2 separate regions of the Homo sapiens genome follow, and region 2 is linked to region 1. Evidence: fine-mapped expression QTL. Tissue or cell type: whole blood. Region 1 holds a variant in brackets; the other region holds the start of a gene. All regions are shown on one strand. Distances are from middle to middle.

Region 1 (2,881 bases):
GCCCGCTTCAGGTGCTCAGGATGCAGACAGACGTGAAACTGGCGGGTCCTTTAGGAGACTGTCCCGACTGCGTGTCCTGAGGTGACTCGCCCCAGGGCGCACGGCAGCCGGCAGCCAAGCTCAAGCTTTCAGGCTCTCATTTCAAAGTGTCCCGAGGTGATTCGCCCCAGGGCGCACGGCACCCGGCAGCCAAGCCCAAGCTTTCAGGTTCTCATTTCCATCACGCCCCGGCCGGCCGCCGCGGACAGCTCCGCGGAGCCGACTCGGAGGCTGCTACTTGCAAATTCCCGGGCTGCCCGCCCGCCCGCACTCACCAATGGGCTTGTCCAACCGCATGAGGCGCAAGTACGGCTGCAGGGGGCGGGGCGCAGAGTCCACCACCGCCGCCGCGGACAAACTGAGCTGGCGCCCGCGCGGCTCGGGACAGGCGGGGGGCTGCAAGTCACCACCGTGGGGCGCGCCTGCCGCACGCGCCAGGGCGAAGGAGCGGCCCCGCCAGCCCGGCAGCCACGCCAGTGCCACAGCCCGCAGGCCCCGCGCGAACCCCGCGGCTCGCGAGCCCAGCATGGCGCTGGTGAGGCCGGGACGAGCTCGGATTGACGTCATTCCCCGGCAGGCATGCGCAGTGGCACCCGCAGGATGCAATCCTAGTCTGCCAGGCTGGGCGGCGGTGTGGGCAGAACCTTTCCTCATCCTTACTTGTGAAATTGGGGTCATCGTGGTCGCTTACTCTAGGGAGGAATACTTAATGAAAAAGGGATTTCTATTGGCAAAAGGCAAAAAAATTACAATAAATTTAGTTGTAATTTTTTACAACTCGATCTTGATTGACTTTGTGGTTCCATTATCGGGCAACACTCAGAACGGGGTCTCTGAGGAAACAAACAAAAAATAGAATCGGGCAACACCTTATTCTGTAAAATAGAATAAGTGTTCCAAAGAGTCGAGCGGAGGAAGTTGGCTTTATAGACAGAAAAAGGGCTGAAGAAAGCAGAAGCAGAGAACAAAAAGCGGATTGGTCACTTCAAATTACTTTCATTGCGAGGCGGGGACAGGG[AAAC/A]AACAACAGAGAAATAACGGATTGGTTAACATTAGGTTACACCAGGTTAAGGACTAAAACAGGAAACTTAATTGTCATGACGATTGCATTTTGAAATGGCCTGGTTGGAAAATTGGCTGTTGTCTCTCTTTCCTGACTTCTCAGAATGTCAGATACAACTTAGTTTTAGTTTGGTGACTTGGAACTTTAGCATGGGTGACTCTTGATTCTTAGTCTGATCTGTTGGGACCTAGTGCAGGAACTTAGTTCAAAACAATGGCCCCCTATAATTTAACCCTATTATCAGCTTTCTCCATAAAATGAAAAGGATAGTGTTTATTCATATGGAACAGTTGTACCAGGAAAAAAAAAAAAAAGCTTTGAAAAACCTACTGAATCCAAAAGAAGAATTTGCGTACACGTTTAGCCATAAAAAAAAAAAAGGGCACCAAGTGGCCACATACAAGACTGTAAATTAAAATCGCATTCAGGGTTAAGGGATGTTCATTACACAAGTGAAAATTTTAAATTTGACAGCCCTTCAAAGGAGTTTTTGTAATCAGTAGACAACCAGCATGTGTGATGCTAAGAACCTGAAGCTGAAAAGTCTGGTCAGCAGAGTCTTGCTCTGTCATCCAGGCTGGAGACCAGTGGAGGGATCATGGCTCACTGCAGCCTCCACCTCTTGGGCTCAATCGATCCTCCCATCTCAGCATTCTAAATATCTGGGACCACAGACACGAGCCACCGTGGCTGGCTAATTTTTAATTTTTCATAGAGAGGAGGTCTCACTATATTGCCCAGGTTGGTCTTGAACAGCTGGGCTAAAGAGATCCTCCTGCCTCAGATGGTCAGTACTCTTATTCATAAGCAACTCTGTATATCGCTGTGTGCCAGGCACTTTACATGTATCAACTCATTTAACCTCTCACTGAGTAACCCTAGGCAAGTCACTCATCTGGATTTTAATATTCTAGGAAGTTGACTTAGTCTTTAGGCTCCTTTCTGTAAAACATGTACAATGATTCTGTGACTTCTTGCATGGCTCAAGTACAGCAAGTTGGATGCCTGGCCACTTTGGTGCAATGAGGCAGGGGGTACCTAGCCTTTCTCCTGCCTGCAAAGAATAAAGGCCAGCAGGCAATTTAGTAACACTCCTAGTTGTTAGATTGGAGATGATTTAGATCTGACTCAAACCTGAAAAGGGTGTAATATCAGTCATGTATTGCATCCATGACTTTCCAATATAGGTCCAAACTCTTTGTTTAAAAAAATATATTAAGAATTTCAAGATGGCAACAGCAGGACATTAAACCAAGTACAAGGTCCTTCTTAGCGTAGGCCCTGGGTGACTGCACATGTACCCATGATGCTGACCCTGCCCAGAGGTGATTCAATCCTAAGATATTTGGTCCAATTAAAGTGCACAGGAAACTGAGATGGGTACCCACATGTCACTCTGCTAATTTGTAGGACAAGAGAACAGTCACATAGAGTAGAGCCCTAACTTTCAGGAGTCTCCTCTAGACTAATGCCAAGGCACAGTATGCCCTTGGGAAAGCCATTTAACTGCTGCAAACTCTTCAGAAAAGGAAGGGACTAGGCTTTCTCTAAAAGGGCCTGTAAGGCTCCGATTCCTCATTTTGTTTTTTGTTTTTTTTGAAGTGACTTTCTTTTTTTTTAAAATTTTATTATTATTATACTTTAAGTTTTAGGGTACATGTACACAACGCCAATTCCTCATTTTGGATTGGGCAGGAACTCATTTTGTTTTAAACCTATTACCCACAGGAACTGAAATGGTTAATTTTACATGTCAATTTGGCTAGGCCATAGTGCCAA
Region 2 (2,907 bases), 49 kb after region 1:
AAGCTTGAGAAATTCCATTCTACAGCTGAAGAAATCAAGGTTGGTGTGGCCAAGAGATATGGAAAAACCAAGTCACTCATCTTTGCCAGAGCTGAGAGTCAAGCCAGGATGGTCTGTCCATCTCTTAACCAGTACACTACCCATTAAATTAGCGCTGGCAACTATAGTGTGGGCTCAGGGAGGACAGCATCTAGGTATTTGACACAGAGGTGAGATAATGGTGATCTTTCCCTCTATCTGGGCTGGTCAAGATGTGGCCATCTCTGGAGGCTCCCAGGGCCTAAATAAGAGGCCTAGAAGACCTGGGATTGTCCCTGTAGCTCCCCATCTTGGAGTCAGCCTGCATTCATGGGGCAGGAGCCCTGAACCTGCATCAGGTTCCTTCTTTCTCAGGTAAGGAAAAAACTTAGAGCTGATAAGGCAGCACCACATTTTGCAGCCCCATTTTGGAGAGACATCTTTTTATTAGGACTTTGTAAGTCACTGCAGTAGTCTCCTAGGTCTCATTTATTGAATATTTAGATTTTTATTCCTGTTCTGTGACGCCCTTTTCATCTGCCTAAAAAAAAAAAAAGAAAAGAAAAAAGAAAAAGAAAAGAAAAGAAAGAGAAATCTTCCTAACACAGTCTTAAATACAGAAGGCTATGCACAATCTTACTTGTCCTACACTGCACAGCAAATCAAGCACTCACAGGCCTTCAGGTGCACCTGCCTGGTTTCCCTCCTCTTGGCTAGGGAAGTACTGGGGCAAGTGGGCAGTTTCTTTTTCAAATTTCCACTTATACCTGACCTTAGGTGGTGCCTATTCAACACTTACAGAATGAATGAAACAAAAAGGCTCATTTAGAGTGGGCGCTAAACAATGTGTACACATGGACTTAGTGGAATAGTAGACACTGGAGACTCCAAAAGGTGGGAGGGTGGGAGAGGGATGAGGGATGAGAAATTACCTATTAGATACAATGTACAACATTCGGGTGACAGTTACACTAAGAGCCCAGATGCCACCACAATGCAATATACCCATGGAACAGAACTGCACTTGTAACCCCTAAATCTATTTTTTAAATGATACCCCCCAAAAAGCAGTTTGGGGTCTGAGAGTAAGGGAGGGAGAGGGAGAATGAGAGGCGGGAAGTGGGGTGGGGAGAGACAGGCGGGGAGGTTCCGGTGTGAAGTTGTTTCCGCGCAAAAGAAGGAGAGCGGCTGGCGGGGCAGACATAGGTGTCAGGAGGACAGGAAAGGGGACAGGACCAGGAGGCTGGCGCTTACCCCAGGAGGATGAGGAACCGCGGGTCCGTGGCCAGGTTGGCGTCAATGGTGACGGACAGGAACGAGGGGCTCACCAGGTGCAGCGGCTCCTGGGTGAAGAAGTCCAGGTCCACGACGTCCTGTGCTTGCGCAGGTCGGGGCAGGGCGCCAGGGGAGAGGGGACCCAGCGGCCCCAGGAGCAGCAGCATCAGCGGCGGCGGCAGCGCAGGCTTCGAGCGCAGCAGCATCTTGGGCTCACCTGGCTGCTCCCCCCGCCAGCTGCCGCGCAGCGGAGAGTCGAGAGCTCTAGCACTTCCTCCCGCCGAGCCCCAGCGCCCTTTTCTCCTTTCCTCCGCCCCGTTACGCCTCCTCACCCCTCCCACTGCGCCCTCCATCCCTCCCACTCCTCTTCTGCATCCCTCCCACTGCTCCCAATCCAACCCCGCCCCGCCTGCCCGGCTCTCTCCTACTTCCTTGCTCGCTTTCCCCTCGGTGGCGGTCACGTTCACTTACGAAATCACCCACACCCACTTGAAGGGTGCGGAGATGGCCGGGATCCAAGCGCCCGGGAGGCCTGGGGAGGAGCGCCCGGGGAGGAGCGCCCGGGGAGCAGCGCTGGGCATCCCGGACCAGGCTTCCTGACGCACGTGTTCTGCGCGCTCTCGTGGGAACCCAGCGTTTCCGACTCCCAGATCCCATTCTGATGGCGCCGGGTATCCCTCTGACCCTCGAGTAAAACCTCCAATGGAGTATTCATCCCTTCCTCTCCCATCTAGCTTATAAACACTTGCTTGTCACTTGAGCCAGCCAAAATCTGATTGTCCTCTGGCCAGGCAGTTTCTCAGGTATTTTACTTTTGCTTGAAAAAATCTGGCCTCAGCATACGCTAAACTGCAGCTGGAAAGAGATCAACCACCCAAAATTCTTTATCAACTTCTCATTAAGACAATATTTAGCAATCTTAAAGGGTTAGTTGCTCCAATGTCTGGAACTCAGGACCTGAAGCCCCCATACAAAGTGTAGAGTACGGACTGCCCCTGAATTTGGAGCCTTTGCCAAATTTCTCCTCTGCGCATTTATCTTTCGCTGTTGGTCAGACTTTTCTTCAGCTTTTCCTTGATGCTTACACTGATGTATAATCATAGCAAGCATCGCACGCTTAGTGCCTACTGTATGCCTGATACAGGTGCTTTACTTGTGTTCTCTTCCCTTCTCACAACCCTGCCAAGTGCATACTGTCCTTGTTTTACACATGCGGACCCAAGCTCTGAGACAGTAACTGGGTGAAGTGTCAGAATCGGGATGTGAAGTGTCAGAATCGGGATGTGAATGCAGTTACAAAACCTCGAGCAGATGGCAGTGTGTTTCAGCTGAAATGTAACTTCCCTCAAGGAAGCTTTCTCTCAATCTCCAGGCAGCTCTCCATGACACACTCTCATAGCATCCTCAATTTGTTAGACACTCTCGTAGCATCCTCAATTTGTTAGACACTCTCGTAGCATCCTCAATTTGTTAGTATTGTGATGTTGCTCAACATTGGCTTCATCTACTAGATTATATGCTCCACCAAAACAGAGATTAAGTTTGTCTCACACGCTATGCTAGCCATAGCTCAGGCATGTGATCATGTTGGTGCTTAGTAAGAGTCTAATAAAT

The links.
Region 2: HPSE starts here. The variant in region 1 is fine-mapped to the expression of HPSE in whole blood (TOPMed, PIP 0.92).

What each region holds. Positions count from the first base shown.
Region 1 is chr4:83,284,198-83,287,078 of GRCh38, forward strand. It overlaps COQ2 (coenzyme Q2, polyprenyltransferase), which reads right to left and starts at 601. Exons shown (of 7, transcript NM_001358921.2): 1 at 315-601. The coding sequence starts at 567. RefSeq lists enhancers at 4-243, 439-733 and a silencer at 304-633. The variant AAAC/A (reference allele first, on the strand shown) is at 1,058.
Region 2 is chr4:83,333,284-83,336,190 of GRCh38, forward strand. It overlaps HPSE (heparanase), which reads right to left and starts at 1,565. Exons shown (of 12, transcript NM_001098540.3): 1 at 1,273-1,565. The coding sequence starts at 1,499.